3 linked regions of the Homo sapiens genome follow. The protein of the gene in region 1 purifies or fractionates together with the protein of each later gene. This does not show direct contact. Each region holds a gene or a part of one and is shown in the gene's direction. Other genes may lie near its edges. The genes, in order: GEMIN2, SNRNP70 and STRN4.

Evidence for each region.
Region 2: the proteins of GEMIN2 (region 1) and SNRNP70 purify together in Homo sapiens (affinity purification with mass spectrometry; 6 studies listed by BioGRID and IntAct, with this or other methods). This does not show direct contact.
Region 3: the proteins of GEMIN2 (region 1) and STRN4 purify together in Homo sapiens (affinity purification with mass spectrometry; 2 studies listed by BioGRID and IntAct, with this or other methods). This does not show direct contact.

The regions. Positions count from the first base shown.
Region 1 is NC_000014.9:39,112,670-39,116,416, forward strand, and holds the start of GEMIN2 (gem-associated protein 2), read left to right. Parts: upstream 1-1,653; 5' UTR 1,654-1,669; coding exon 1,670-1,806; exon of another isoform or gene 1,807-2,159; coding exon 2,160-2,244; intron 2,245-3,019; exon of another isoform or gene 3,020-3,196; intron 3,197-3,747. UniProt on the Homo sapiens protein: The SMN complex catalyzes the assembly of small nuclear ribonucleoproteins (snRNPs), the building blocks of the spliceosome, and thereby plays an important role in the splicing of cellular pre-mRNAs.
Region 2 is NC_000019.10:49,083,198-49,086,944, forward strand, and holds the start of SNRNP70 (U1 small nuclear ribonucleoprotein 70 kDa), read left to right. Parts: upstream 1-2,253; 5' UTR 2,254-2,439; intron 2,440-3,207; 5' UTR 3,208-3,217; coding exon 3,218-3,364; intron 3,365-3,747. UniProt on the Homo sapiens protein: Component of the spliceosomal U1 snRNP, which is essential for recognition of the pre-mRNA 5' splice-site and the subsequent assembly of the spliceosome. SNRNP70 binds to the loop I region of U1-snRNA.
Region 3 is NC_000019.10:46,739,817-46,743,563, reverse strand, and holds part of STRN4 (striatin-4), read left to right. Parts: intron 1-3,747. UniProt on the Homo sapiens protein: Calmodulin-binding scaffolding protein which is the center of the striatin-interacting phosphatase and kinase (STRIPAK) complexes.

The DNA.
Region 1 (3,747 bases):
TATTTTTATTTTCTTCTTTGTCTCGTAATGTCATTTCGAAGTGAGGTTGAAAAGTAAATCGTGATATATAGGGTTAAATAAAACCCATCTGATGAGAATTTATGATTTGTAGGGCATGACTCCCCAGACCCCTTAGATAGGAATTTGGGCAAAATAAAAAAATCAGGCCGGGCGCGGTGGCTCATGCCTGTAATCCCAGCACTTTGGGAGGCCGAGGCGGGTGGATCACGAGGTCAGGAGATCGACATCATCCTGGCTAACAAGGTGAAACCCCGTCTCTACTAAAAATACAATAAATTAGCCGGGCGTGGTGGCGAGTGCCTGTAGTCCCGGCGGCTACTCGGGAGCCTGAGGCAGGAGAATGGCGTGAACCCGGGAGGCGGAGCTTGCAGTGAGCCGAGATTGCGCCACTGCACTCCAGACTGGGCGACAGAGCGAGACTCCGTCTCAAAAAAAAAAAAAAAAAAATTCAGTTTAGTCCTCACGTCACTACTTACTTTTTCAAATTTGTCCTTGATTATCACCAAAATGTTGGACGACAGGAGTATTTCTCCCTATTCTAAGTCTGTTTTTCCCAAAACCAGTGAAAATTTGTTAACCAAATAACTGTAGTTTGCAGCCAGGTGATATCTTTCCAAGTGTCCCAATTGTTTAGTTACAGTTCCTAAGCATTAAGTACTTAAATAAGCTAAGGACTATCCTCACTTTATCTTCAATTTAGACTTACATCCTGGTTTGAAATCAATTCCTTGCAAACTAAAGGCAGTGCCATAAATAAAAATTTTTAACCTTCTAAAATAAACATCAGTGTTAGAAAATAAGTCAATTGTATTCACTCAATTGTATTTGTTTAGAAATAATCAGATATTATACTTGTTTCTTGCACATTCTTGCCTTGTTTCCTCACCTATGAAATGGAGATAATAATACTATCTACCTAACAAGATTGACCTAACATTTTTGTTAATTTCTGGGTGTTAGCATTAGTTTCATTTTTTTCACTATTTGTATTTAAACGAAGAGATTTTTCTTTAAAACAAAAATTAAAAAGTGCTGGCTATTCTAGGAGTAATATTCATTCCAAATAAACATACAGTGATCTTTGAAGTGGTCAAGCACTAGAAATTTCTGTAGAAAATTAATTTTTCATTCATTTGGCATCGCATAAATCTAGGTTGGAATTGGTTCTTCCTCTTTGGAAGGTCAGTCCCTGCCCTAAGAGAGCGGTATATTACCACCCACTTCACAAGACTGTTCTAAGAATCAAATGAGAAAATGTGTTTATGAAGAGTTTAAGAATTTAGAGCTCCATGAATGATAATTACAGTAATATTGTTCATTAATTCAAAAAACATTTTTAAGGATCCCTCACTACTAGGGATGCATAAAAGTTGCTAACCCTCGGCCTTTACCCAGCGTTAGAAGACAAAACAGAGGGTAAAAGTCCCAGAAACGCGTTCGAACCAATTCAGCTAGGAATTAAATTCTCAGATCCTTTATTACACCACCGGAGCCTTAACCTTGAGGCAAGCAGCAATTTGTTCATGCGCAGTTAACGCTCCCTAAACTGCCACTTGCTCAGCTCCGCGCCTAAGGTGTCTATTAGTACGCCTGCGCTGTGACCTAGAATGGGCGCATGCGCCGAGCGGAACTGGCTGGTTTGAAAACCATGGCGTGGGTACCAGCGGAGTCCGCAGTGGAAGAGTTGATGCCTCGGCTATTGCCGGTAGAGCCTTGCGACTTGACGGAAGGTTTCGATCCCTCGGTACCCCCGAGGACGCCTCAGGAATACCTGAGGCGGGTCCAGTGAGTGATTCGGCCCTGGGCGGGTGGGCTGGTCTTCTGCCCTGCCCCTGGGTACAGCCCTCGGTGCTCTATTCCCGTTCCAGTCTGTTGCGAGTTCAGGTCTATTCAGGATTCTGGATTACATCCTAACGTGGGCGAGTTTCTGTTGAACGTGATTGCACGTATCAAGATGTGTGCTCTTAGATTTGTTTTCAATCCAGATAATTTCAGAAATACATTGTTTAGTACCTCAATTGGAAGTCTGAATTTTTTTCTGATTTCACAATGAACTGTGGAAGTGGATCGCTTGTTTTACTACACCTGAGCAAAGCACAACAGAAATTTAATTTATCGCGTTTATTACTTATTTGTAGGATCGAAGCAGCTCAATGTCCAGATGTTGTGGTAGCTCAAATTGACCCAAAGAAGTTGAAAAGGAAGCAAAGTGTGAATATTTCTGTGAGTTTTATTAACCGTCTGGAGATTACCCCCAACCCCCCAATTAAAAGACTAACGCTCTTCCTATAGTATCTGACAGCATCAATTATGACGTAAGATTTGACTACTCCGTGCAAAGTTAGACATTCGCTTGTACTTTTTCCTTCAGAAAGACAATTGGCATTTACTGCCTCTAAAGAGGCTTTCTGTAACTCTAGCCTTTGTGGAGTGTTGCCCATCTTACTTCAGGACATTATCCAGTCCTTTCAAAGGAGTCTTTAAATGGGTTACTTATGTTATCTTTTATTTTTTGCTTGTTTGTTTGTTTATAGAGAGGGAGTCTCTGTTGCCAGCTGGTCTGGAACTCCTGGCCTCAAGTGATCCTCCCTCCTCTGCCACCCAAAGCGTTGGGATCACAGGCGTGAGCCACCTCACCTGGCCCCTTTATTTTTTAAGGAACTTTTTCCAGTTATTGGATTGGTGTTTAATCTTAGTGTGCTTTGCATGTTCTGAATTTGACCAAGTTTCACTTTTTTTAAGAATAGAAACCCAGATGTCTTACACTTTTTTTTTTTTTTTTTTTGAGACAGTTTCACTCTTGTTGCCCAGGCTGCAGTGCAGTGGTGCGATCTCAGCTCACTGCAACCTCTGCCTTCCGGTTTCAAGCGATTACCGTGCCTCAGCCTCCCGAGTAGCTGGGATTACAGGCGCCCACCACCACACCCGGCTAATTTTTGTATTTTTAGTAGAGACGGGGTTTCACCATGTTGTCCAGTCTGGTCTTGAACTCCTGACCTCGTGATGCGCCCACCTCTGCCTCCCAAACTGCTGGGATTACAGGTGTGAGCCACCATACCCGGCCTTACACTTTTATAGCTACTTGCACACTCTGGACATTTTCATTTATTTATTTATCCAGCACATCTTTAATTAAGCAACTAGGTTGTGCCGGGCATTGGGAATTCAACAGAGGGTAAGACAAAAAAGGTTCCTACCCTTGTAGAGTTTACATACCCTCCTGAGGAAGACAGAGAGTAAACAAGCAAACAAATAATTACATATTGTGATTATTGCTATGAAGAAAATAAGCATGTATAATAATCAATAAATGACAGAACTACTGTAGAGGAATCATAGAAGGGCTCTCTTTTTCCCCCTTTTTTTTTTGCGTCTCAATTTTTCGCCCAGGCTGGAGTGCAGTGGCACAATCTCAGCTCATCACAACCTCTGCCTCTCAGGTTCAAGAGCTTCTCTTGCCTCAGCCCCCTGAGTAGCTAGGATTACAGGCGTGTGCCACCACACCTGACTAATTTTTGTATTTTTAGTAGAGACGTGGTTTTACCATGTTGGCCAGGCTGGTCTCAAACTCCTGACCTGAAGTGATCTGCCTGCCTCTGCCTCCTAAAGTGCTGGGATTACAGATGTGAGCCACCACGCCTGGCCAGCAAAGGTCTCTCTAAGGAGGTGCTATTTAACCTAAGCTCAAAGGAGGGTGGCATTTTATTTTATTTCTTTTTCTTTTTT
Region 2 (3,747 bases), on another chromosome or scaffold:
AGCCATCATTATTATTTTTTGAGATAGAGTCTTGCTCTGTCCAGGCTGGAGTGCAGTTGCACAGTCTCAGCTCACTGCAACCTCCACCTCCCAGATTCAAGCGATTCTCCTGCCTTAGCCTTCAAAGTAGCTGGGATTACAGGTGCATGCCACCATGTCCAGCTAATTTTTGTATTTTTAGTAGAGAAGGGGTTTCGCCATGTTGCCCAGGCTGGTCTTGAACTCCTGATCTCAGGGATCCTCCTACCTTGGCCTCCCAAAGTGCTGGGATTACAGGTGTGAGCCACCACACCCGGCCTATTTTATTTGTTTTTTTGAGACAGATTCTCACTCTGTTGCCCAGGCTGGAGTGCAGTCGTGCAATCTCTGCCTCCCGGGTTCAAGCAATTCTCCTGCCTCAGCTTCCCAGGTAGCTGGAATTACAGGTGCGTGCCACCACTCCCAGCTAATTTTTGTATTTTTAGTAGAGATGGGATTTCACCATGTTGGCCAGGCTGGTCTCGAACTCCTGACCTCAGGTGATCCGCCCACCTCGGCCTCCCAAAGTGCTGGGATTACAGGTGTGAGCCACCACACCCAGCCCTTTTCTTTCTTTTTTTTTTTTTTTTTTTGAGACGGAGTCTCGCTCTGTCGCCCAGGCTGGAGTCTAGTGGCACAATCTTGGCTCACTGCAGCCTCAACTTTCTCGGCTCAAACGATCCTCCCACTTCTTTTTTTTATTTGAGACGGAGTTTTGCTCTTGTCTCCCAGGCTGGAGTGCAATGGTGCCATCTTGGCTCACCACAACCTCTGCCTCCCAGGTTCAAGTGATTCTCCTGCCTCAGCCTCTCAAGTAGCTGGGATTATAGGCATGTGCCACCATGCCCAGCTAATTTTGTATTTTTAGTAGAGACGGGGTTTCTCCATGTTGATCAGTCTGGTCTCGAACTATTGACCTCAGGTGATCTGCCCGCCTTGGCCTCCCAAAGTGCTGGGATTACAGGCGTGAGCACTGCACTCGGCCTTTTTCTTGAAACATAAAATTAGTCATTTTAATTTGCAATAATTTCTGTAGTTATTAAACAGGCTATTGAATCCATCCACAAAACTTAAGATACAATACTTAAGAACAGGGCTCTAAATAACAAGTGCCAGCTCTCTGATCTCATGGCCAACAACCTGAGATTCCTGCCATCTGGTCTCAGTTCAGGACCTTTGCACTTACTGTTAAACACCGCCCCCCCGGCCCCACCCCAGATCTCGCTTCTATCTGTCCTTTATTCAAATGTTACCTCTTCAGAGGGGCCTTCCATTATCACCCTTTCTAAAACAGCCTCGCTCTCACTTCCCATCCCTTTATTCTGCTCCATCGTTCTTCATTATGCTGGCCACTATCTCAAATTATCTTTTATTATTTATTTATTTATTTACTTTTGAGACGGAGTCGCTCTGTCGCCCAGGCTGGAGTGCAATGGCACGACCTCGGCTCACTGCAACCTCCGCCTCCCGAGTTCAAGCGATTCTCCCGCCTCAGCCTCCAGAGTAACCGGGCTTACAGGCGCGCACGGCCACGCCCGGCTAATTTTTGTATTTTTAGTAGAGACGGGCTTTCACCATGTTGGTCAGGTTGGTCTCACACTCCTGACCTCAGGTGATCTGCCCGCCTCAGCCTCCCAAAAGTTCTGGGATTACAGGCGTGATCCACCGCGCCTGGCCTCAAATTATCTTTATTCAGTTAAATGCTTTTATTGTCTCTCCCAGTACAATGTAAGCCCTAGCAGCAGAAGACTTTGCTTTAATCACGTGCTGTACCCCCAAAGCCCAGACAGTGCCTAGCACACACGAGATGCTCGATGAATAGTTATTGATTGAATAGATTAGACATCAACGCAATCAGGCTGTTCACCTAGGGACTCTTTGCTAGGCGGCGGAGAGGTACGTTACAGTTCTCTACGCAAAACGCATGCGCGAAAGATCCGGGAAGTGTGATCGGAAAGGGGCGGAGCATCAGGGAGAGTCTCGCGGACATAGGCGGTTCGGCGCGGAAAGCGGGAGGTGGAGGGGCGGCTTGGGGCAAGCGCGCGCGCGCAGTGCAGAAGCCAGCCCCCCGCGGCTGAGGTACTCAAGGTGCCCAAAGGCGGGGTAGTGACCTCGCGCGTGCGCTGTGCCCGCGGCAGCGCCGGGTCCTAGTGTGTGGGTTGTTGTTGGCACCGCACGGCGCGTGCGCAGTGAGGACGGCGGAGGGATTTGCGGCCGGGACCCACCCCCTGCTCCAGTCGCTATCGGAGGCCGCGCGGGTGGCTGAGCAGCGGCCTGGTGCGCTCGCTTAGCGGGCGACGGAATCAGACGGACGTGGACGCCCCCGGAGTGGAAGCCGAAGCAGGAGTTGTTGTTGCTGAGGGGCTGCCGCAGCCGCCGCGAGCCTCCGGACAGACGCCAGAGCGAGGAGGGCGCTACGCGGTGAGTGAGTGTGACTGAGTGGCCCGACGGGGTGCGGGGCCGCTACCCAGAAGCCCCAGCGGTGGGCCCGGTCCTCTTCCCCGCGGCCAGGCCCCTTTCCCGCGTCCCCGCCACAGGTCCCTTCTGCATCCCTTTCCCGGACCCCGAAATCTCTGGGCACCCACGCCCGCTTCCCACAGCGCCCTCGTGGTTCCCTACCCACAGGCCCTTGCGGTGTGTGGCCTTTTTTCTTTTTCGTTTGTCTATGTTGTCCTGGACCCTTACCCATAATTCCTTTCGCTTTTTGCGGGGTCCAGGTCTGTTACCCACAAGCACTTGGTTTTGGGGCTTCGCTCCTTATGTTTCTCTTTCTTTGCTTGGAAACTTCCGATCCCCAGGACCCTGCAAACTGCATCTCGTAATTTGCCCTCCACGGCACGGGACGAGCAGCCACAGCTGCTCTGGGCCTCCCTCCTCGGGTCCTTGATTTCCCCAGAAATTCCCAGGGAACCTCTCCGCCCCACAGCTCGTGTCAGAGGACTCTGAGACTTCACTCTTCAGGAACCCTTTTCCAGCCGTTATTTTTGTTTTCTTTACCGGCCTTTCACCTCCACCCCCACCAAGACGTACCCTTTTCTCCGCAACACAGGACTGTTCTCTGCCCTTACAGAGCCTGTTTTAATTCCGAGACTTTTCTCCTGTCTTTCTTATTTTGAGAGTCAAGGAGTAACAGGGGCTTTCTCTGTGCAGACCCGATCTAACCTAAGGCTGTCCTGCTTCTGCTCTCAGACTTGGCAAGATGACCCAGTTCCTGCCGCCCAACCTTCTGGCCCTCTTTGCCCCCCGTGACCCTATTCCATACCTGCCACCCCTGGAGAAACTGCCACATGAAAAACACCACAATCAACCTTATTGTGGCATTGCGCCGTACATTCGAGAGTTTGAGGTGAGTTCACTGAGCAGGCCAGGAATGGTTTGGGTTCTGGGGAGCAACGGGTTGGATTTGCGAGTCCAGCTTCTGGCCATTTTGCCAGCTGCGTGATTTAAGCGAGGGGCTTAACCTTTGTGATCCTCAGTTTCTCTGTTTTAAATGGGGTTGGAGCCGGGTGTCGGGTGTGGTCGAGTGCGTCTGTAGTCTCAGCTACTCAGGAGGCTGAGGTGGGAGGATTGCTTGAGCCCAGGAGTCGGAGGCTGGAGTGCTTTGTGATTGTGCCACTATACTCCGGCCTGGGTGACAGAGCAGGACTTCGTCTCTCAAAAAAAAAATTTTTTTTTTAAGTGGGGTTGTGGCCCGGTACGGTGGCTCACGCCTGTAATCCCAGTACTTTG
Region 3 (3,747 bases), on another chromosome or scaffold:
AGAAAATTGGTTCAGGCAAGCATAGTGGCCTCCCCAGGGTCACCCAAGCAGTCATAGCAGAGCTTGGACTGAATCTTGGCCTCTGGGACTTTGCACCAGTGCACCGCACAGCACCCACCACACCATCTTCTCATCCTGGAGGCTGATGAGAGAAAAGATGTTTATCCCCTCACTTACTGACCCTTCTTGGAGTTTGAGAGGAACTTGTGTCTGGCATGGTACCAGCACTGTCACTTTGTACTTTTGTTTTCTTTTATTCTGTTAAGTTAGTAAAAATTCAGACATCTCAGAGGGGTGTGTGTGTGTGTGTGAGTGTGTGTATACACATATATATGTAAGTGAAAAAGGAAAGTTCCTTCTCTTCGTCCCTTTCCTGCTCTTCTCTCCTGAGAGAGAAGAGTTATTGTGCTTATGTAATAGATGAACTACTGCTGTATGTATCATTTTGTGACATAATAATCTGTTTTGGTTTTCCTTTCATATCAGCACAGAGAACTCTTTCTTTTTGATAGCTGCATAGCGTCCCACGGGATGTTTGCACCATAGCTGATTGAGTTTGACCCTGGTTGGTGGACTTTTAGATTTTTTCTAGTTTTTCCCCCATCAGACATGGCTGCAGTGAGAACCCCTTATTCCTGTGCAAGAATGAAGCAGAACAGATGAGTGGAATAGTAGAATGGATGTGTTTATGAAACAGTGATTGGGCTGGGCGCGGTGGCTCGCGCCTGTAATCCCAGCACTTTGAGAGGCCAAGGCAGGTGGATCACAAGGTCTGGAGTTCAAGACCAGCGTGGCCGATATGGTGAAACCCCACCTCTACTAAAAATACAGAAATTAGTCGGGCGTGGTGGTGGGCGCCTGTAGTCCCAGCTACTCGGGAGGCTGAGGCAGGAGAATCGCTTGTACCCGGGAAGCAGAAGTTGCAGTGAGCCGAGATCACACCACTGCACTCCAGCCTTGGTGACAGAGCGAGATGCCATCTCAAAAAAAATAAAAATAAAAAAAGAAACAGTGAATGACTCTGCCACATTGACCCACCAGTTTACTCTCCCATCAGCGGCACCTCTTTTACACACCTTTACTTGAACACTTAGTGCTAACAGACGGTGTGACTTCCCCTGTGAGATCCCTTAAGAGCTAGGCAGTGTCAGATTTTCCTGATGGACTCTGAATAACTTTTCTCTGAAGAGCTTAATACAGCTGCTCCTAGCAGAAGACCTGCCGTGCGACCCTGCTTGGTACCTGTGTGTTGAATGGCAGAGAAGGCAGCCCCCAGGGAGGTCCTGCCAGTAGTCACCATAAGTTTGGAGCAGGAAGGTGGCGGAGCTGCAGTCTGATAATGAGCAGGCATTTGCTAGGTGGGGGATTCTGAGAAGTAAGTAACGTGGTTTCTGCCCATCCGAAACTTCCAGGCTGGCAGAGGAAGCTTGTTTGTGCAGGGGACCGCAGAGCTGTAGATGTTCATGCACAGTTGATTGTGTGGCTCTGCCCCTGTTCTGTGGCAACTCTGAGAGGGGAAGCTTTTTGAGGATGGGAGGGACCTTTTAATGAGGGATCTGAACTGGAGATTTGTATAGGAGCAGCGACAGGGACCTGCAGTGAGTGCGGTGCCAGCAGAGAATGTGCGGAGCTGCCCCTGCCCACTTCAGCTTCCTGGGGGCCCATTCCTGCCAGCAGCTGCTGAAGCTTGGGAAGGAGGCCCTTAGGAGATGCAGGGCTAGATGGCACGAAACGGGGACTCTTCCCAGCTAGCTGGGACAGGAAGCAGCGAATTCAGAGAGGCATCAGCTCCTGGGAGGACTGAATTGCTGGGACTCCTCCGAAGCCTTTAGATGTCGCCTTGCTGGGAATAGCTGGAGGGGCGGAGAGGCAGTAGCTGCCAGGTATCAGAAGGTTTTGGGAGCGCATGCTCTGCGGCTCTGGCTAGAGGGAGTGGCAGTGGGTGGATATGGTGAGCGGCACTTCCAGATCCCCGACCGACCCTCAGGCCTACCTTGGCCCTCGCAGACCAGACAGCCCGTGGGGGCTGCTGGCGTTTGCAGCGAGGGAGAGACTGGCCACTGACGCTTCCCGTTTTTGGTGGGTTTCCACCTCCCTGAGATGCTCCAACCATGTCTTTCTGGTTCTCTTTCCAGAGGCACTGGGAAAGGGACAGCAAAGCAGAGTGGGCAGCTGAGACCCTCACATCCTCATTAGGAGGAGGGAGACCACAGCTCGATGAGGCAGCAGAGGGATGAAGGGGGAACCCAGCCAGTGACAGGTCTGGTTGGGATGCCCAACTCCACCTCCTGCCCCCACAGATAGACCACTACTGTGTCCACTGCCCCGGCCTAGTCCAAGCCACTACCGTTCTGTCCTGGGATTTCTGGGACTGCCCTCATCTGTGATGGGGGTCTCTGTGTCCAGCTCTGCCGCTCTCCTGCTCCCTCCCTCTAGTCTCCCTCCAGAACTCCCTCCAGTCAGTTCTCCATGTTTTAGCTGGAGCTGCCTTTATAACATGCGAATCGGTTACCTCTCTGTACTTAAAACCCTTCCATGGCTTCACTGAGCCTTTTACAGGTTCTGAAGCAGCCATCCTGGCCTTTTTTAGAGTTCCTTAAGCCCACCATGCAGCTCTTGTCTCCGTCCTCTGCCAGCAGGGCCCTTCCCTCCCCTGGCTAACTTCTCTTCAGCTTCAGGCCTTAGCTGAATTGTCGCCTCTTGTCCCTCTTCCCATAGCGTCCTTCGCTCCCGCAATGGGGTCCTAGTCACATTGCATGTGAGTTGCTGCTCATGCCTGTCTCCTGCATGGGACTGAGCCCTGTGGGTGCAGGAACCACATGGCTCCTCTGTTATTCCCCAGCGCCTTACTGGGGCACCTGATGTGTGTGGGCAGTCACCAAACAGTGGCAGGTATTGACCAAGGTGTAGGTTCCCGGCAGGCTGAACTGCCCCTGGGAGGTTGAGGGATCAATCACCAAACCCCAGGAGGGAAGGGAGGAGAGTGAGGAGGAAAGTCAGGACTTGTCTTCGGTGGTCGGTCTGCCTCTCCTCACACCTTCTCCAGTGATTCAGAGAGTAGATTTGGGGGACTGAGAAGATACACAAAGGACAGAAACTCATGCTTCAGAGATGCTGATGTCATATAAGTAGTTTCCCTGTCTGGCCTTGGATGTTTATATACATATGTGTTGGTAAAAAGTGTTAAAAAGGAAAAAAATTTCCCATTCTTGAAGCGGACAGATGAGTTTTCTTTTCTATAAGGTAACTGGTGACATGTATTTCTTTTTTTTTTTGAGACGAAGTCTGGCTCTGTCGCCCAGGCTGGAGTGCAGTGGCACGATCTTGGCCCACTGCAATCTCCACTTCCCAGGTTCAAGCGATTCTCCTGCCTCAGCCTCCCGAGTAGCTGGGACTACAGGTGTGTACCACCATGCCTGGCTAAGTTTTTTGTATTTTTAGTAGAGATGGGGTTTCACCATGTTGGCCAGGCTGGTCTTGAACTCCTGACCTCAAGTCATCTGCCCACCTCAGCCTCCCAAAGGGCTGGGATTACAGGCGTGAGCCACTGTGCCTGGCCAATCCACAGACATTTCTAGTTGATCTGGGGTCTCCAAGGGATCCTACCTCCCGTAAGGAACTGGGCCCATTTCGAAGTTGCGAACAATGGACAGGGAGAATAAAAATGATGAAAGAAGTAGAAGCTGGCATTTGTTAGCCTTTATTCTGTGCCAGGCCTTGACTGAGCAGAACCTAGCACATGAGGGG